5 separate regions of the Homo sapiens genome follow, and all the other regions are linked to region 1. Evidence: fine-mapped expression QTL. A gene starts in region 1. Each other region holds a variant in brackets. All regions are shown on one strand. Distances are between the middles of the regions.

Region 1 (4,000 bases):
GCTCATGGCACAATGAAAGAGAATAAAATCACCGATTGAAGGCCCTCAGGTGTTCTACACGGAAGTGATGGAGGATTGACAGACTGAGGCAGAAGTTGAGACCATTAGAGGAAGGCTATGGAAATGAAATGGAAGCCACCTTTGTTCATACTATTTTTCATTAATCTTGGTATCTTTTTTTTCCCTCTAGTTGTGCCAGTTACTTCTGGCTCTACCCTGATTTCTTTGTTCATTTTTCTTCCTGCTAAAGGAAAATACTCACTTATTTAACATATTTAAAGCTGTGCTGAGAGCAAAGCATTATCCTAAGCCCTGATGGTGGTCATAGCGTTGGGAATGTACAAAGATAAACAGGACATTAAAGCCCTTGAGTACCAAACATAATGAAAAGTCTGATATGTGAGCTCCAAACCAAATGGCAAAAGGAAGGAAATAATTAATTCAGACTTGGAAACAGGAGTGAGGGGTGGGGGGTGGGTGACGGGTGGAAGGGGTGGCAGTGGGTTGGGGGGCTGTCACTCAGGGAAGACTTCATTGTTGCTGGTTTGTTCATTCACGTTTTCAGGATTCATTCACTGATGTCTCCTATCTACAATGTCTGCTCCTGAAAGAGCCCACGGTCCAGCACAGGTCTGGAAGACATAAACCATCACAATATAGTGTGAGAAACAAGCACGAGAGGTACACAGGGCCGTGGACGCTTATAAGAGAGAATTCAGAAGATGCTGTTGGTGGCTTTTGAACTGATTCCTAGAAATAAATAGGAATTTACCAAAGGAGAAGAGTGGAAAGGACATGTAAAAAGGCATTGAGAGTGTGTTTGGAGGGGGAAGAGGCACTAAGATATACCACCCATTAGGTAGAAAGGCTTGAATACCAGACTAACAAGTTTGGCCTTTATCTTCGAAATAATGGGCAACCATAGAAGAAATCGGAGCATGTGAGGGTCAAGATAAAATTTTAGTTTTGGAATTTTCCCTCTGGTATTGCGTGTAAGGTGTACTAGATCGGGATGATACGGGGGCATAGCCACAGACGCCTCAGCTGCATCTCTGCACCTGGGAGACTGCACCAGATGCGAGCCTAGCAGAATGGGAGAGTGGGAGGTGCGGGTGAGCGAATGGAAGGTTAAGGGAGAGTCCCTCGTGAGGTCTACATTCTGGGCAAGGGCAAACGCAGTTCTAGGCACCGCACAGCTGCTGGCAAGACCCGCCTCCCCTTCCAGATCCCTCTGGGGCGGAGCTCGGGCCAGAGCACGTGATGCTTGGAGCACCACCTTTACTGTGGGCACCCTTCTCATTCATCCGCGGTTTCACGGGCCGCCACTTCGATCTCCAACACCTTGACCGTATGCCTTCGTGAGCGAGGAATCCGTTCTCCTTGACACGTCCCTATTGCTCCTCCTGCAAAGCCCAGTTAGGGAAGAGAAATATCAAAGGAGTCCCTTGCCCACACAAAAGATGGCGACCTGCTGCGCTCACTCTGGGTGGGGGAAGCGGGTTCCAGGCGCCGGGCCTCACTAGGCGAGGCGCAGACGGAAGAGGCGTCTCTGGAGGTAACTTTTCGACCTTCCTGGGAGTAGCTCTGAAGCGAGGGGGCGTGGCCTCGCCTGAGTTCTAACAGATGATTGGTCTTCCGGCAGGTAGGTGGGGAATGAGTGCTACCCCCACCCCTCCCTCTTCGAACCGGAAGTGTCTCTGGGTCTTTCCAGCTGGTTGTCATTTCACTCGGCTCGGTCCTGAGGAGAAGGACTCAGCCGCGGCTGCGGGACCCGGGCACCGGGAGGCGGTGGCGGCGGCGGCGGCGGCAGCAGCGGCGACAGCAGAGGAGGAAGAGGAGGAAGAAGGAAAGAAAAAGAAGAACCAGGAGGAGTCCTCAACAACGACAGCGGGGACTGCGGGACCAGGGTAAAGCGGCGACGGCGGCGACGGCCCAGCAACCGTGAGGAGAAACAAAAGCCTTCTAAATTATAGTTTAAAAAAAAATTCTGGGGGAAAAGAGAGAGAAAGCCGAGGGGGGAGGCCCTTCTCCTTTAAAATAACTACGGTAGTGGGTTTTTCCTTTTTTTCCTCTTTTTTCCCTCTCTGCGGAGAATCGAACTGAGGGAACTGAACAAACCGCCCCTGGGTCCCATGAGGGAAAAAAACCCCGGAGCCGCAGAGAGGGGAAGAGGCAGAAACCGCAGGACCTTCCAGGTCGCCCCCTCGGTCCCCGCACCCCCAGGCCGCCCGCTCACCCTCGTCGAGTCTCGCTAATCCCTCCTGATCGCGACCCCCGCAAGAGGGAGAAACGGGTGTTTCCAACCCCTTTCATGGGGGAGAGGAAGCCGCGGGGAGCCCAGGAACAGCGACCGCAGCAAGATCTGCACCCGGAGCCTCAGGAACAGCCCCAGAGGCCAAAACTGCACCCTGCGAAAGAGCAGAAAACAGGACCAGGAACAGCAGAAACCTCCCTGCAATCATCTTTCCATTAGTCAATGCTGATTTCCTCTCCCGAAACCAGGAATTCACTTCCCACCCCAGATAACCTAATATAATCTATATATATAAATATATAATATATAATGTTCTTAAATTATTCCTGATTTTTTTTTAACCAAGCTGCCAAGAAAAGAACGTATTCCCCTCTTAGTCCTATTCTAATTTTTATGTGAGTGAATCTAAACTGCTGAGGAAAACCATATGTGATTGTTAAATTATATATATCTATATTTTTACTCCGCGCAAGGCTTATTCTTCTACATCCATAGATGCTTGAGAAGCTCTGTTTTTGTCATTCATGTACATTTTCCTTTGGAAAAAGAAAGCGCCTATTTTACTAACCAAAGACTTGATTTTTACCCTCTTCATTTTTATTCCCTCCTAAAAATAAGCCCAATTGGATCCAAGTCAATGTTTTAAGAGATTTTTTTAAGAGTTGTTTTTTCTTTCAGAGACCAGAATTCCAAATCAGAACAATTTAAGGTGATAAGCTGCGATCTTTGAGCTAGCTATAAATAAGACATTTCAAGCAAGCAAGCAAACAACTTAAATTTGGGGTAGAGGAAAAAAAAGGCGTGAGACATCAGGTTGTCATTTTTTATTGTGAGATTCTGCTCCTAAAGATAATAAATGGGGGATTACGGGTTTGGAGTGCTAGTGCAAAGCAATACTGGGAATAAATCTGCTTTTCCAGTCAGATTCCATCCACATCTGCAGCCTCCACACCATCACCAAAATGCCACCCCCAGCCCTGCTGCTTTTATAAATAATAACACAGCTGCCAATGGCAGCAGTGCTGGGTCAGCTTGGCTTTTTCCTGCTCCAGCTACCCATAACATTCAGGATGAGATCTTGGGGTCAGAAAAAGCAAAAAGTCAGCAACAGGAACAGCAAGACCCCTTAGAAAAGCAGCAGCTTTCCCCAAGTCCAGGTCAGGAAGCTGGAATACTGCCTGAAACAGAGAAGGCAAAATCAGAAGAAAATCAAGGGGACAATTCTTCGGAAAATGGCAATGGGAAGGAGAAAATAAGGATCGAATCTCCAGTGTTGACAGGGTTTGATTATCAAGAAGCCACTGGGCTAGGTACTTCAACCCAACCCTTGACATCTAGCGCATCGTCTCTTACTGGTTTCAGTAACTGGTCAGCAGCGATAGCGCCTTCCTCCTCTACAATAATCAATGAAGATGCAAGTTTCTTTCACCAGGGAGGGGTCCCTGCTGCTTCGGCTAATAACGGTGCTCTGTTGTTTCAAAATTTCCCCCATCATGTCAGCCCTGGCTTTGGAGGCAGCTTCTCTCCTCAGATCGGGCCTCTCTCACAGCACCACCCACATCACCCTCATTTCCAGCATCATCACAGCCAGCATCAGCAGCAAAGGAGGTCTCCTGCCAGTCCCCATCCCCCACCCTTCACACATAGAAATGCTGCTTTTAACCAGCTGCCTCATTTGGCGAATAATCTTAACAAACCCCCCTCTCCGTGGAGCAGCTACCAGAGTCCGTCACCAACACCCTCCTC
Region 2 (4,000 bases), 36 kb before region 1:
AGGTGAGGGGAAGTCTGGAAGACGAATAGATGAAAGGAGGGCAGGAAGGGAGGGAGGAAAGAGGAAGGAAGAGGTGCTGATTCTTGCAATTTTCTAGAACCTCTCCAAAGTCTTTTTTCCTCCATGACCCTTTCTCCCCTTGCCCTGGGATTCTCTTGTCCTCACTACCCTTGCAGTCTCCCACTCCTGCGTATTGTACAAGCTGGTGCAGACTGAGAAATGTTGCTCTGAAAGACAGGAAAGGGAATTTTTTTAAACATCTGCTTCATTACCCAGCTCCCCACTGCCCAGCCACCAATACACACAGACACATTGAATGTCTCCACAGGTCCTCTCAGCTCTTTGAAAATGATGAACTATCCAATCATTCACTTCTCTAAGTCTCCACCACCCCATCCCTGTCACTCCAGATGAGAAATTCATATAAAGATGGCTTTGCTCAGAAAACAATGTTGCCTGTGGCCATTAAGAAAAAAAGGTCTGCCCACCCTTAAATGTTTATCATAGCTCCTGATTTTTTTCTTTTCTTAAATCTTTTTTTCTTTTTTTTGACTTGGAGCAAGGAGGGTCTGACTGTCACTTGGAGCTAAACCAGTCTCCAAGTGGCCATCAGACCCTCTTTGCCCCAAGTCAGTACCGTCCTCAGTGACAGCTCTGATATGGGTTAAATTGTGTCACCCAAAAAGACGTGTTGAAGCCCTGACCCCCATACCTTGGAGTGTGACCTTCTTTGACAGTAGGGCTGTTGAAGATGTCATTAGTTAAGATGAGGTCATACTGGAGTAGGGTGGGCCGTTAATCCAGTATGACTGGTGCCTTCCCAGAAGAGGAGAAGGGACATACATGAAGTCACATAAGGGAAGAACACCATATGACACCGGAGGAAGGGGCTGGAGTGATGCAGCTGCAGGCCGGGGAACATCAAAGATCGCCAGCCAACCACCGGAAGCAAGGAGAGGCAAGGAAGCATCTGCCCAGAGTTTCAGAGGAACAGGGCCCTGCTGACACCATGATTTTCCAACCCTGGCCTCCAGAGCTGTGGGAGAATACGTTTCCATTGTTTTCAGCCACCCAGTTTGTGGTACTTTGTTTATGGCAGCCCTAGCAGGTTGATATAACTTCCTGCTATTGCCTTTGAAGCTACCGCTGGACAATAGTCTTTCAAAAGGAACTAGGGGTTTGATTTCAATGGGATGAATTTGAATAGAGTTTTGGGAGCGAAACACATATGCTGTCACTGAATTCTCAAAAAGCCTGATTTCCTCCAAGTGTCCTATCAAAAATATAAAGACATTTGAAGATAAAACACACCTTCCTTTTCCTTATCCGAGAAAACCCCAAGTTCTCAGGATAACAGACACGGGACGGCAGAACTCAAGAGAGAGTGGACTTGTGGCAAATGTGGAATCCCAGGCCCGCTGTGTGGCTATCAGCTGCGTGGTCTTGATTGAGTGTGTCAGTCAGGGTCCTGGAGGAAACGCCACTCACTGCAGATGGGTCAGGTGAAGAGACTTTAAGGAACTGACCACATGCTGTGTGCTGTGGCTCCCACCTATCATCCCAGCTACTTGGGAGGCTGAGGTGGGAGGATCACATGAGCCCAGGAGTTCAAGGCTGTGGTGAGCTATGATCGCACCACTGTACTCCAGCCCAGGTGACAGAGCGAAACCCCATCTCTCTACTATAAAATGAAAAAAAAAGAAAAAGAAAAAGAGGGAAGGGACCACACAGGTGCTGGGAGGATGAGGAAATAAACCAGGAATGACGAAGCATGCAAAGAAGAGCAACGAGGAGGAGTTGTTACCCCT[T/C]CAGAGCAGAGGGGACAGACGGAGGAAACGGTGGCATTGCCCTCTATCAGGCATCACACTCATGGAGGGACTCAACGACTGGCAGACAGGTGGCACCTAACTAGGTAAGGATGGGGAAGAAAGACTTCGACTTCTCTCTTCTCCTGCTAGTGCCTCAATTGGCTGAACCCAGCAGGAAGCCCAGAGGACAAGGACCCCAGCACAAAGAGATGGCAGAGAGAGCAAATGGAGAAGAACTACTACAGCAAGCCATTCTCCATTCCGAACTAAGTATTTCCCTGGCCAAATGGGAGTAAGAATACTGACTGCTAGGCTTGTGACATGCCTATCACTTGGTCATGAATTATAAGGGACATAGCACAATGCTGGGCAAAGAGGATTGTCCTCGAGAAACACCCAGTGAATAAACAATTAATGGGCTGAGTGGATTTTCTTACGAGGCACACACATCATTCTTTTTTTCTAAAAAAAAAAAAAAAATCTCCAATGATAGACTTGGATAAATTATGCCTCAACTCCATGTCATAAAAGGTACAGAGGGAATTGTACAGCATATTAGAGATAATTAACTCCAAGTAGAATCAGGGCTGCCAGAATTCAGGAAGGACTCTGTGAGTCAATCTCACCCTAAAAAGGCACTGAGGCGCATGTACAGAAAGGAAAATAGAAGCCAATTAATTCAAAACATTTGGTACCTTGTAGCCTCAAGAGGTTTAGATGGAAGCACTTAGCGAGTGTGACTGAAATGGCAAGTACGTCCGGCTGCATGTGATAGATTGGTGGGAGCTGATTCAGCCACCATGCAGAGTACTGAGAAGTTGTGTCCATTTCTAGGAACTGTTGACTCAAAGGCAAAATGCAAGATGGAGCTTCATTAGGGCAGGTGGGTTTTGAAGGAGAGTTGAGACAAAGGTTATTTTTATCTCGGGGCTGTTTTCCAATCTCTCCTCACTTTCAAGGAAGGGAACGGATAGAGCACCTACTGTGTGTTGAGTAGGAGCTAAAAGGCCCCTGCACACCACTTCAGCGAATCCTCACAGCAACCAGGAGAGCGAGAAGAGGAAAGAGGCTCAGGGAAGGCTTAGGGACTTTGAGCCTTGCCCAAAGTCCCATCAAAGCTGGGGGGCCCAAGAGGAATTCAAACTTATGTTGTTTTCACGCTATACCACGTGACCTTTTTTTCCTTTTCTTTTTCTTTTCCTTTTCTTTTTTTTTTTTTAGAAAGGATTTCACTCCGTCACCCAGACTAGAGGGTAGTGCATAATCATAGCTCACTGCAGCCTTGACCTCCTGGGCTCAAACAATCCTCCTGCCTCAGCCTCATTAGTAGGTGGGACTATAGGCACATGCCACCAAGCCAGGGTGACTTTTAATTGTTTTTGTACAGAGCAGGTCTCCTTATTTTGCCCAGGCTGATCTCAAACTCCTGGGCACAAGTGATCCTCCCACCTCTGTCTCCCAAAGTGCTGAGATCACCGGTGTGAGCCACCGCACCCGGCCCAAGTGACTTTTTCCATCCCATCATGTGAGTCAAACCTCTTGGCTCCACTCTCAAGATATGGTCCTAAGAAACTACAGAAACAATTTCACCATACTGGAAGAAACACAAATATCAAACAACAAAGGAAGAACAGAAAGAGGGATCCTGCAGGGAAATCCCAGTTCTGCCTCTGCCTCATAGGTTGCTACCACCAGATTTCGATGGTTCTACCACACACACTTTTTGTTTTCTTTTTCACATTTTAACATCTCAAAAATCAGAGTATATTTTACAATTGATGGCATGTCAGAGTTTAATTGACAGTTGTTATTCTTTCTTGATGGCACATTACACAATGGTGAGCCTTATCATGTACTGTTGGCACATTTATGAAATATATTATTATCAGCTTCATTTTTCACAGATGAGTAATGCAGCCTGTTCACAAGCAAATCAGTGGTCCCCTGCCCACTTCCCTGACCTCACCTCCGCCTAGGATGCCTGATTCTTTCTTTCTTTCTTTCTTTCTTTCTTTCTTTCTTTCTTTCTTTCTTTCTTTCTTTCCTTCCTTCCTTCCTTCCTTCCTTCCTTCCTTCCTTCCTTCCTTCCTTCCTTCCTTCTTTCTTTCTTTCTTTCTTTCTTTCTTTCTTTCTTTCTTTCTTTCTTTCTTTCTTTCTTTCTTTCTTTCTTCTTTCTTCCTCTCCTTTTTCTT
Region 3 (4,000 bases), 76 kb after region 1:
GTTTTGCTCTTGTTGCCCAGGCTGGAGTGAGTGCAATGGTGTGCTCTCAGCTCACTGCAACCCCTGCCTCCCGTGTTCAAGCCATTCTCCTACCTCAGCCTCCAAAGTAGCTGGGATTACAGGCATGCACCACCATGCCCAACTAATTTTGTATTTTTAGTAGAGATGGGGTTTCTCCATGTTGGTCAGGCTGGTCTCGAACTCCTGACCTCAGGTGATCCGCCCGCCTTGGCCTCCCAAAGTGCTGGGATTACAGGCGTGAGCCACCGTGCCCAGCCAGAAACCTATTTACTTTGTTGAAAGTGTCCCTCTCACTCCAATTTCTCTGACTACAGATTCTGTTTACAGGTAACACATGGAACATACTTTGGGCTATACCACTGTAACATTTTAGTATGTTTCAAGAAGCTTTGAAACCCCACTTTGTTTTTTGGCATCCATACATGTGTTCTGGAAGGGTGCTTGGCCCTGCCACTTGTGAGCCACTTTCAGAGCTGCTTTCATTGCCCACACCTACTTTACTGGAGTTCTAGGTACTTACGTAGCTTCTAAGCCCTGTCCTAGTTCCAGTGCATCCTCCTAATTCGTCTTCCCTCTACTACCATCCCAGAAGAAAGAAAAAGAGAAGTTACTTTGCACAATAAAGCTATTTTGATTATGCTTTTCACTGTCTCAGACCAGCCCTTGTTTCTCATGAGTGCCTCAAATGCCACTTGAGACAAGCAGCTAGTGCTTTGAATCTGCCATTCTATGATATGCTGTCTCCCTTTCTCATCATTCCTATATCCTCCTTCAAAATTTTCTTTTGCAAACTTCCCTCAGCACCCCTCACCCGCTGATTCTCTTGAGAATAGGCGCCACTGGCTTTGAATAAATTCTAAGAATTTAGAAAATGAACATTTGCGCCCCACTAGGAACTCTTACCTAGCAATACCAATTCAGTCGTCCTCATTAGAGAACATTTTATTTTGCCGTGCCTTGAGTCTTCTCAGGATATTTTGGGTTATCATCTTTCTCTAGTCAAGCTGGGTGTCATTGTTGGCTGTCTGGAAAAAGTGTCTTATTGTGATTCAGCGTGGTGACCAGAGTTGGAAAAGTACACATTGTCTCAGGGAAGTTAAAAATGAACAGCAGCATCCCAAATCAGAATGTGAGCAAACCTCCAGCCTTTAGTATTGCGTGTAATTTGATTCAGTGTCAGGGAAAAACTGCCTGTGGGTAGCTGGGCTGGAGGTGGTGAATCAGTGCACGCAAATGCCAGCAGCTAAGCTTGAGCTTTCTTTATCCTTTTCATCGGAGTTCTATTTCAGGAAGCCCGGCTTTGATACCCTAAAAATGTCAATGTGATCAAGCAAATGTCACCATTTTAAAGAGATTATTTTCAACTCTTCTCCCACCTCCCTGTGAGACCTAGGAGTGACTCCCCAGAACCCACCAAAGGCAGCAGGGCATTTTAAACTCGTGAAATCAGTTACCCAGGAAGAGAACCGGGAGGGGTGGTGGTAAAATAATTATGTGAAGCTGCAAAGAATGTTTTAGCTAGGATCCAAGAAAGACCTGG[C/T]GCTTCCTTATTTGGAGGAATGAAGGTGATACAGGAGCTAAAAGGAAATTATTTAGGCGGTTAGCGAGGGTAAGAGAGTCCTCAGGCTTCCCTTTTAACAAAAAGCAGCCCCCAAATCATTTCTTTTCTAACAAAGAGCAGCCTGTAAAATCGAGCTGCAGACATAAATAAGCAAGCTGGAAGCCTGCATAGGTAAATGCCGGCAGCTGTGCCAACAGGAAAAGGCTAGCTGGGGGCCAGGCATGTTCAACATGGAGGCTCCCTCTTCCTTTTCTTTGTCGCTATGTGTGCAGTAGAAAGGCAGGCAACATGGCGTTGGCCAGGTAGAGACCCCCATCTGCATAATAAAAGATTAGGGTGGGATGGCCAGCTTCTTTGTGCGTGATGCAAGTGTCACGCCTGGTCCGACCAATCTCTCTGGCCCTACGTGAATCAGACACGCCTCCTCAAGCTCATCTATAAAATCCCATGCATTTCATTGTGGAGCCGGAAGTCCCACCCGGGAGCCCCTCTCTCTCCTAAGAGAGAGAGCTATTCTCTTTCTTTTGCTTATTGAACCTCCAGGGTTAAACTCACTTCTTGTATGTCCGCGTTGTTGATTTCCCTGGCACGAGACGACGAACCTCGGGTACTTACCCCAGACCACAACGCCGCTTCAAAGGCACAATTCCCCTTTCATGTTTGAGGGAAAAGTGCTGTGGGTCCTTGAGTGTTTGGTGACAGAAGGTTTGATTCCAACAGCGTGCTGGGTGGGGTAGGGTGGGTGAGGGTGGGGTGGGGTGAGGGTGACGGTGGGGTGGGGTGAGGGTGAGGGTGGGGTGAGGGTGAGGGTTGGGGTGGGGTGGGGTGAGGGTGGGGTGGGGTGAGGGTGGGGTGGGGTGAGGGTGAGGGTTGGGGTGGGGTGGGGTGGGGTGAGGGTGGGGTGAGGGTGGGGTGGGGTGAGGGTGGGAATGTGGAATAGTCACATCCATCAGATGACTCTCAGCACTGCTGACTTCAATGACGGAATGATTTGGTTCAGAAGAAACTAGTAAATGCTGATCCCCTGTTATATATCAGGCCCTTACATACATTAGCAAGGATAACACTTCCATGAGGTATTGAACAGATCATAGAACTGTCTCATGGAGAAGGTGGGTGATTTGGCCAAGGCTGGGATGTGCCTAGGTCCCAATTCTCATCTACTAATCTCAAATCTTCTCCTTTAAACCTTCTTGCCGCTGGATTAGCAATGAACAGGATCAGGGCTTTTTATTCAAGTTTTATTTTGTTTTTAAAAGAAAAGTTTCATTCCTAAACCTAATCTGGGTGTAACTGTCATATTTGAAACTATAGAGATAGGATGATAAAACAAAAGTTGTAAGATGGGTGGGCACGGTGGCTCACGCCTGTTATCCCAGCACTCCGGGAGACCTAGGCTGAGGATCAATTGAACCCAGGAGTTCAAGACCAGCCTGGGCAACATGGCAAAACCCCGTCTCAACAACAACAACAACAACAACAAAAACTTAGCTGGGCATGGTGGTGTGTGCCTGTCGTTCCAGCTGCTGCGGGGGAAGGGGGCTGCTGAGATGGAGGATCGCTTGAGCCCAGCAGGTGGAGGCTGCAGTGAGCCACGATCTCACTATGGCACTCCAGCCTGAGCAACAAAGTGAGACCATCTTGGGGGATAAAACAAAAACACCACAAAATAAAACCAAAAAAACTCAAAAGTTGTACAATGGCTGGGAACAATGGCTCATGCCTGTAATCCCAGCACTTTGGAAGGTGGGAGGATCACTTGAGGCCAGGAGTTCAAGACGAGTTTGGGCAGCATGGCAAGACCCTGCCTCTAATTTTAAAAATAAAAAATAAAAATAAACTTTGTAAGAGCAAATGTGAGTTTTGATTGTGAGTCCTAAAATGTGGCCACTTCCTCTCTTAAAAACTGACTCTCAGCTAAGACAGGTGCTCGAGGTCATGTAATTAGTTAGTAGGGAGGCAGATAAGGAGGCCAGAGGGAAGTCCTTGAGCTCTGTCAAGCTCAGGTGGCTCAGGCCCACCTCTGCAGTTCTTGTCTGCCTTACTGGCTTCCATTAAGCCCATGAGTATGGCTCAGAGGCCAGAACTGGGTATATATTTTAGGAGTAGGGACAAGGTAGTTGAAATGACATTTCTATTCACTTTAAGGAAGTACAGTACAGACTTCTTAGTACATATTCTTTCTCTTTGATCCAACCACCAAGAGAGACACATCAGTTTGGAGTAGGAAACAAAGAAAAAGGAGGGCCCTTTTCTCTAGTATTGTAAACCCAAGAATTCCAGAAACACAATTTTAGGAGTGAGAATAATAATAATAAGGCCGGGGGCGGTGGCTCATGCCTGTAATCCCAGCACTTTGAGAGGCCAAGGTGGGCAGATCACGAGATCAGGAGTTCGAGACCAGCCTGATCAACATGG
Region 4 (4,209 bases), 48 kb before region 1:
TAGCAAGAATCTACAAAAAAAAAAAAAAAAAAAAAAAAAATCAACTTAGCCAGGCATGATGACATGTGTTTGTAGTCCCAGCTATTTGGTAAGCTAAAGAAGGAAGATTGCTTGAGCCCAGGAGTTCAAGCCTGCAGTGAGCTCTGATCATGCCATTGCACTCTAGCCTGAATATATAAAATACAAAAAAAAAAAAAATTCAATAACCATGTATTCCAGAAAATTTAGAAAATTCATAAGATCACTGAGAAAGTAATATGTCACTAACATTCTCATCCTACTACCTAAATAGTTGTAATCAATGATTTGGTGTATTTACTCAAAATTTTCTGTCTATGTATACTTATGTTTTTAAAAATAAATAGGATTATCTCATGTTAAAAAAATGTAAGTCATTTCCAATTCAGGTGCCAAAGAAAGTTTTACTTCTGGGTAGGGCACAGTGGCTCACACCTGTAATCCCAGCACTTTGGGAGGCTGAGGCGGGTGGATCACAAGGTCAGGAGTTCAAGACCAGCCTGGCCAAGATGGTGAAATCCCATCTCTACTAAAAATACAAAAATTAGCTTGGTGTGGTGGTGGGCACCTGTAATCCCAGCTACTCAGGAGGATGAGGCAGAGAATTGCTTGAACCCGGGAGGCAGATGTTGCAGTGAGCTGAGATCGTGCCACTGCACACCAGCCTGAGTGACAGAGCGAGACTTCATCTCAAAAAAAAAAAGAAAGTTTTACTTCTGAGACATTAGTATACTTTTTCCTTATATGGCACAAATAATGTAGCATCATATTTTTTTTTCATATTCTCAAGCATCATCATGTTTTCCTTTTTGTTCTGGCCACTGGGAAGCTCAATCTAAATATGTGGCCAACTTTGATAAACGCCTAGAATCCTTTGTCTGCTTGTTTATGTCCTAACTTCCTTCCTGGCCCTGATCTATTAAATCTCTCTTTCCCTAATCCTGATTTGTTCTCTATGTATAGCTTTGTAGTTTACTGTTGTATTGTATTGTGTTATTGTACATACATAATATTATAGGTACTATTGTAAGCTCCACATGGAAAAGGGTCGATGATATGTAAGTAGTCACTAGGAAGAAGATTCATCAATATTAAGTATTCTTGTAATCTGTCACAATCACCTGATTAACCTGTCATCATATGGTAAGCCCCAGGTGGCAACAAAGCAGGGGAGGGGATGGCCAGTGTTTATATGCGTGTGGGGAAGAGATAGAGACAGAGAGGCTTCAACCACCCCATATAGAACTCTAGAATCTGCTTGGGTTCCTGGTAGCAGTTTGTCACTTGAGAGAGGGTTTGTGAGCTTTATCTGCTGTCTCCTGATAAACCTGGGTGACTCACTTGTCTCTGGCCTGTATGTCTGTCACAGCTCCTGGCCACTCCCTGAACTCCAGAATAGGCACCTTCAATCCACTTTCTACTGGGTCCCAGGGTGATTTTCTTTTTTTCTTCACTACAAATGTGACCACATGACGCTCCTGCTTAAACCCTTCAGTGTTACCCACAAAGTACCCCTAAAAAATTCCTAATCGAATGCAGCCCTCTCGTTTCATAATTGAGAAGAATGTGACCCAGAGGTAAAGCAATTTAGTGGCACAGTTGGGACCAGAACTGAGGTTTCATTTATTTGTTCATTCATTCCTCCATGCATACATTTATTTACTAAAAAATTTTGAGGACTAATAGGCATCAGGCACGTTGGAGGCTCTGGAGACATAGCAGTGAGCGACACACCGGGTCTGCTGTCTTCCAGCTTCCACGCTAAAGGGGCAGGATGCAAGAAACAGATTGACGCAGAAATGAACAAGGTTTCAGATTGCTCTAAGGGCTATGAGACTTAAAAAGGAGGCACCATGCTGGAGAGTGGGTTGGGGTGGGGTGGTAGAAGAGGCTTGAGGTAGGGTGGTCGGGGAGACTCTCTGGTTGTGACATTTGAGCAGTGGCTAGCGTTGGGAAGATCTGGGTCTTTGCATGCATATGAGGTCTTGAGGAGAGCACCCACCTGGCTCCTTCTAGCACTCTGAGGAGAAGGAGAGGGCAGGAGGGGAGTTCTGTAGCAGGGATGGCAGGGTCAAGTCTCGGAGAGCCTTGGCAAGGTCTCCCGCCCTGTCATCACAATTGTGGTTTCCAAAACTCATCACAGGCTCAGGTGTGTTTTCAGGCCAAAGGCTTTTGGTTGAAAAGCAAGGAGAAAATGGAGAGCTAAGCATTTCCTTTCATGCCCAGCCCAACCAAGGCACAGCCCTTCTCACTGGATGAAATTTACACCTAACGTTATTTTTAGTCTTCTCTCTCCAGCTCAATGAATACACCTCACATGCAAGAGAAGATGAATTTATCTTTGTGGTTGAGAAATGCTCACATGTGAGAGCGGGAAAGAACACAAGCTTTGGAGGGAAGGAGAACATGGTTGAAACCTTGGTCCTGAAACCTGGTGTGGTCTTTAAGCCAGCTTCCTCACCTTCTACCCCACAGTGTC[C/G]CATCTGTCAATAAAATTAGTAAGGACTGGGGTGTATACGGTGCTTTGTGTTCTTTACAAATATTATCTCAGTTCATCTCCTAAGAACTCTCTTATGGTACTATTATTTTCAAACCCATTTTACTGATGGGGAAACTGAGACCCAGAGAAAGGGACCTGAAATTCAAACCCAAGCAGTCCCACACCAAGGTCTATCCCAAAGTCTTCCCCAGGATGTCATATCATCTTGTGCATGGTACTGCCATTGGGAAGTGTAAAAGAACTAGAGCTGGTAAAAGGCCCAGATGAGACTCTGGGCCCCCTCAGCATTGAATCCATCTTCTTTTTACTCTGAAGAACCAGACGGATGGGGCACAAGCAGGTGCCCCATGGCTGCAAATGTGAGGCAGTGCAGGGGGGTAAGACTGGTTGGCTCACCAGGGTCCCCAGCCCAGCAGCCAAATGCCCAGGTATTCCTCCTCCCTTCTGCCAAGGAAAAGAAAAATAGGTTTGACTTCTTTTCACTGTAGTCGTGGTCCCCAGCCATGACCCTTTCCCCTGGATTTCATTGTTATGCAGAAGCCACTCCGTCCCAGGCAGAGCGTGTCCCTCCTTTAGGCTCCCACTGCACCACGTACATCCTGTATCTCGCCCTTATAAACCTGTATGGTAATTACTTTACTTGCCCAGGGCAAGAGTACAAACAGAGACCCACATATTATACGTCTAAATATTAAAAGTTATAAATCAAGCTAATGAACTGTTAAATAAAATATGTCTAGCTGCATACCTTGACAAATATATCTGCCTAACAATCTGGAAGGTCAAGATTGAATTTAGAAATCTCAGATGCCTCAGCATTTTGCGCCTACAGGTGGTGACCTTGGAAAGCCAATCCCAAGCCCCAGGCCCGGCTCCTGCCCCACTTCTCTCCCCGCCTTGGTCTGTATCTGTACTGAGATGGGCCTTGTGCAGGCAAAAACACCTGAGGGTGCCCCGGCCTCACAGCCAAACTCCATTGTCTATTTCCCCTCCCAACCAACAGCTACCCTTGGCCACCAATGGGCTTCAAGGTTTGCGCACGGGCGGCTTGCTCAGCCTTTGAGAGGACAGACCTGGGGAAGGAGTCCATGCAGTTTCTGGAAATAAGCTCATAGCTGTTTGGGCAAGGTATTCTAGTCCCCAGTGTGTGCATAGACCATGAGCTACAACATTGGTATCTAATAGAAACATAACGTGAGTCATAAATGCAAGCCACGTGTGTAATTTAAAATATAGTTAATCTTTGAATAACACAGAGGTTAGCGGCAGTACCCCCTGATCACAGTCATACCAGCTTATAACTTGACTTCCTTAAAACCTATCTACTAAGCTGAAGCAGGAGGATTGCTTGAGCCCAGGAGTTTGAGACCAGACCTAGCAACCAGTGAGACCCTGTCTCTACAAAAAAAAAATAAAGAAAAATTATCTGGGTGTGGTAGTGCAGCCTGTAGTTCCAGCTATTTGGGAGGCTGAGGAGGAAGGATCACTTGAGCCTGGGAGGTTGAGGTTACAGTGAACTGTGATCACGCCACTGCACTCCAGCCTGGGTGACAGAGCAAAACCCTGTCTCAAAAACAAAAAAACAAAAACAAAAACAAACCACTAATAGCCTGCTGTTGACCAGAAGCCTTACCAATAAACACATATTTTGTATGTTATACGTATTATACACTGTATTCCCACAATAAAGC
Region 5 (4,000 bases), 54 kb before region 1:
TCTTCAGCAGGGGAATGATGTCTCTGTGCAATCAGAATCTGGTTCCCACAAAAGGTAGAAGGGTTGCCCTGATTTCTCATCTTTGTCACGACTACAAGATTTATGTCAGAAGAGAGAGAAATGCCAGAAAGATGCAGAAGCCTGGAATTAACTGCACAGGCCTGTATTTTGAAACAGGTGGCTTGTCTTCCTTGAAAGATGACAGTTCTCCAATCTTTTTGAGGAACCGTTCCAAGAAAGAGGAACAGTAAAAGATTTCCACTCCCAGAGAGCATAGCTCTGCTCACATGTTCCAGTAAGTAATGTTCTCTGTATCACAATGAACAGAAAAATGTGCGTGATGGAATGAAAATCCGTACTGCCTGGCTACCCGTGGGCAGCCTTGGTTACTATGGAAAATTCCTGATTAAAGTCAGCAGAAGAATTTCCTAGCTAACGACTATTATTAATAGGAGCTTCAGCCTTGCGCTGACATTCTTTAATATGTCATTGCACAAGCCAGGTGATTAAACTCCTATGTTTTTTAAAAGGAAACAGAATGCACCCACCTTCTCCAGGCTGACTACCCTTTTTAATAACCCACGCGGTCCTGCTTAGTTAGTATAAGAACAAAACTGCAACCATGAAATTATTTTAACAAGACCATAAAAAAAACAATTTGCTTGAGTGATGTTTAGGGAGAAGGGGGGACCCACCCTCTCCTTAAACTAATTAAACTGTACTATATGTCCTTGTGTAGTTCCTGACATTTTTCTGGTTCACTCAGTTTGAATCGCTACACGGGGATCGGTGCCAAGCTCCCAAATGGCTAACTCAAAACAAAAGCAGGGTCTCCGGAGTATTCCTAGGCATCCAGCAAATTGAGGGAAAGTTATTTTGGGTTAATCAATGTACTTCAGTTGCAATCACATCTTGCCCCATAGAAAAGACGGAAAACAAGGACTCACTGTTTGAAGTCTAACTCAGGGTGAACTAGGAAGTGACACTGACCTTCTTATGTTCTTCGTGTTTCACTATTTTATTTTTTTCTGAAAAATTACACCCTGCTTTGCATGAAGCCAAAAACAGTAGCCCCTCATGTTCCATTTCTCCCCCCAACCTGCTGATAGTTTATGTCTTTCCCACTCACACTGGCGATTACCAGAAGCCACTGGCAGCTTCCTTGAATGTCTTTACAGGCAAGGAGTCTATTCTCAGCCTGGTAGGGACTAGACATTGATTAATGGCTGGGAACTTTGGTTTCTGGCAAGACAAGCCTTAGTTTAAGCTGAGGAGGGCTTTGGGTGTTGGTCAGACTCTTGTCAAAGTCAAACTGGGAGGCACAATGGGTGTCTTGGACACAGCACCGTCACGCATGTCTTAGTCTCCTTCTGAGAAATGTGCCCCTGTGTATTAAGACCCAATATCATGGCCTTAACACTCCTTGAAACTAATGTTTACCAATCACTTCAGAGTTTAGAGAAAGTGTTCGCTTCTGAAAAGCTCTTTAACGTTGATGAGGCAATCATTTAAATTCCGAAGAACTGTGGAGCACAGATAAAGCGCATAATTCAATTTATTTCTGTTTAAAGCAATATACAATGAACTGCCATGTGTGAGATTCTGATGGGGTACCATCCTTTGGATGAACAGGATGAAACTGATAGAGGTGCTTTCTGACTTCAGGGAAATTAGACTGTCCTAATTTAGAGAGGAATCAGTATGATAAATGGTAGAACTGCTCATAGTGATAAGCCCTAACATTTTCATTATGTTCTGCAATATGCAAAGTACATGCATATAAGTGTATAGACAGCTAGCTACAAGGCCATTCTTTTCTCCTGGCAATGGATGCCAATGGTCTCTGATTGCTCTCCCACTGGTTCATCCAACCCAGTGGGAAAAATATCAGCTGGAGTCATGAGGTATTATGCAGGTGAAAACAATCAAGTGGTTGACTAAGAAAGTCTGGGCCTTTGGAGTCAGACTGAGATGTGAATCCTGACTGTTCTAACTCAAAGCCTGTCAAATGAGAGACACGTCCCTCTCCATCTTGTATGATACTTGCTTTATCAATTCCAGGTGTGCCTCATACAGAGGTGCTGGTCCATGCCTCAGCCTTGCCATGCTGTCCTCTACTCAGGTCCCCTGTCCTGTGCCATTGTACATCTTGTCTCCTGCCCCAGAGCTCCATGAA[G/A]AGTGTCGTCTTGCTCTTTGCAAAACATCTGCCTCTTTCTTTGTCTGGAGGAGGAGCTGCCAGGAAGGGAAGCTGCCAGGAAGAAGAGCAACTCAAGTTGGCCTACTTCCTGTTTTGAAACCCAGGGACTTGCTTGCAATCAAGGATGGGTTGTAGAGGCTTGAGGAAGATAGTTCCCAGCACCCCATGAATAAAGGGCTGGTTGTGGCGTGTGGTTCGCATGGCTGGCAGTGTGCTCTTGAGCCTATTTCTGGCTTAACAATATGCCCTCCCTCCATGGGGTTGCATTTTCTTAGAAATCCAAGATGCCAAGAAGGGCAATGTTGGTGGCCTGATCTGGTACAGGAAAGCTAGCCTGATGGTATGTGTTCCTCTACCTTTGATACTTAGTGTTTTCCTCCTTCCCTGTTCCCATGGAGAAGAAGCAGCAGGGCTACTGGGGCACCGAAGGAGAACTCACGACTTACTCCCTACAGCTTTCCAGAAGCACAATGCGTGGCCCTCATCTCTGGCACCACAGTCGCTCCCCTCTTTCAAGCCACATCATCTCTTGTTTGAATGCCTGCAATATCTCCTAGTCACTGTCCACGCCCTTGCCTTCCTGCAATACCTAGTCCATGCAACAGTATCATCTTTTCAGAATGCAACTGTGACCCAGGGCTGCCCAATCAGAGCATGACATCGCCTGGCCGGCATGACTGGTTGAGGGATGGCCTGTAATCTAAGCTAGTGAATAATTATAACTCTCACCTTTTAAGCTCTTGCTGTGTGCCAGACATGGGGCAAAACCCCTGACAACCAGCATCTCACTTCACCCTCACAATAATCCTATGCTGTCAGCACTATTATTATTAGAGGGGGTTAGTAGCTTGCCACAGGAATCTACTGAGAAAAGCGTCAGAACCTGAATTCAATACTTTCTAAATCCACAACCCATGTTTACAATGAAGTGTTAACAGAGACATAGAGCACCCTGTGGCTATTTTCTCCCAACAACAACACTTTTCACTATGTCTTCTAGTGAGGCCAGTGTTGTGGTGCCATGTAGACAAAGCCAAAAACAAAAAAACAGGGGCTGGGGGGACCTGCTGAACAGCCTGGCTACCCAGGGCTTATCAGCGAGATTGTCCTCCCTCCTGCAAGCAAGGTAAGGCATATATGCCCCCTAACAGTAGTAGGTTTTATTTTTTTTTTTCTGAATAAAAAGCCACCACATTGTAGTAATCTGCTACATCTTGGTGGACTGATCAGTTTCTCCTCCTGAAATTGATCTGGACATATTTTTGCATTTATCCTGGGATGGAACCTCCTGCAAGATTCCTCCTTTTTGGTTTGGTTTGAAACACAATGGTTTGCCACCATTACCGATATCCTCAGCACACTTAGCAGGCTGTCCCAAGAGTGGAAGAGTCCCGTCGTGCACTGGGCCAGGAATCTGGGGTCAGAAGGACCAGTGTGAAGAGCTGTGTAACTCCAACACAGCACAGGAGCTAGCTAAACCCATCTCTCAATAGGAGAAGAACCCTACCTCTCAGGGCTGGAGGAGGGCTGCACTCATTTCTGTCCATGCTTAGTCAAGTGCCTGGCACACACCCTCCTAAAGACTAAGTAAATTGTAGCTCTTTTTATTCATTGTTCTACTGAGAGGAAGAGTTGATTTTAAACTCATGATTATTGGCTTAATTAATTTATACCCCAAAATTCAAACACATGTTGCTGATATATAAGTAGCCCAGTCCTTCCACTTTTTGTCTCCCTTTCTTTTTTTTTTTTTTTTTTTTGAGACAGAGTCTTGCTCTGTCACCCAGGCTGGGGTGCAGTGGC

Which allele goes with the higher level. Alleles are on the strand shown, and positions count from the first base shown. SD is a standard deviation of normalised expression in the study named. Not every link is listed here.
For the expression in Th2 cells of the gene that starts at base 1,726 in region 1, allele T in region 3 goes with a lower level than allele C (large effect, 0.82 SD a copy in Schmiedel 2018).

Evidence for each region. PIP is the estimated chance that this variant, and not a neighbour inherited with it, causes the effect. A credible set is the group of variants that fine-mapping cannot tell apart.
Region 2: its variant is the best candidate, but not a certain one, in a credible set for the expression of CPEB4 in whole blood (INTERVAL, PIP 0.72).
Region 3: its variant is the best candidate, but not a certain one, in a credible set for the expression of CPEB4 in Th2 cells (Schmiedel 2018, PIP 0.62).
Region 4: its variant is the best candidate, but not a certain one, in a credible set for the expression of CPEB4 in whole blood (TOPMed, PIP 0.87).
Region 5: its variant is the best candidate, but not a certain one, in a credible set for the expression of CPEB4 in whole blood (TOPMed, PIP 0.58).

The regions. Positions count from the first base shown.
Region 1 is chr5:173,886,624-173,890,623 of GRCh38, forward strand. CPEB4 (cytoplasmic polyadenylation element binding protein 4) reads left to right here and starts at 1,726. Exons shown (of 10, transcript NM_030627.4): 1 at 1,726-4,000. The coding sequence starts at 3,111. RefSeq lists enhancers at 1,233-1,472, 3,497-3,998, 3,999-4,000.
Region 2 is chr5:173,850,997-173,854,996 of GRCh38, forward strand. No RefSeq gene overlaps it. Among named protein-coding and RNA genes, the nearest start is that of CPEB4, 35 kb to the right of the region's middle. RefSeq lists a cis regulatory region at 2,355-2,895. The variant T/C (reference allele first, on the strand shown) is at 1,809.
Region 3 is chr5:173,962,130-173,966,129 of GRCh38, forward strand. No RefSeq gene overlaps it. Among named protein-coding and RNA genes, the nearest start is that of C5orf47, 25 kb to the right of the region's middle. RefSeq lists enhancers at 1,308-2,507, 1,402-2,284. The variant C/T (reference allele first, on the strand shown) is at 1,562.
Region 4 is chr5:173,838,140-173,842,348 of GRCh38, forward strand. No RefSeq gene overlaps it. Among named protein-coding and RNA genes, the nearest start is that of CPEB4, 48 kb to the right of the region's middle. The variant C/G (reference allele first, on the strand shown) is at 2,498.
Region 5 is chr5:173,833,038-173,837,037 of GRCh38, forward strand. No RefSeq gene overlaps it. Among named protein-coding and RNA genes, the nearest start is that of LINC01485, 44 kb to the left of the region's middle. RefSeq lists a silencer at 2,669-2,963. The variant G/A (reference allele first, on the strand shown) is at 2,177.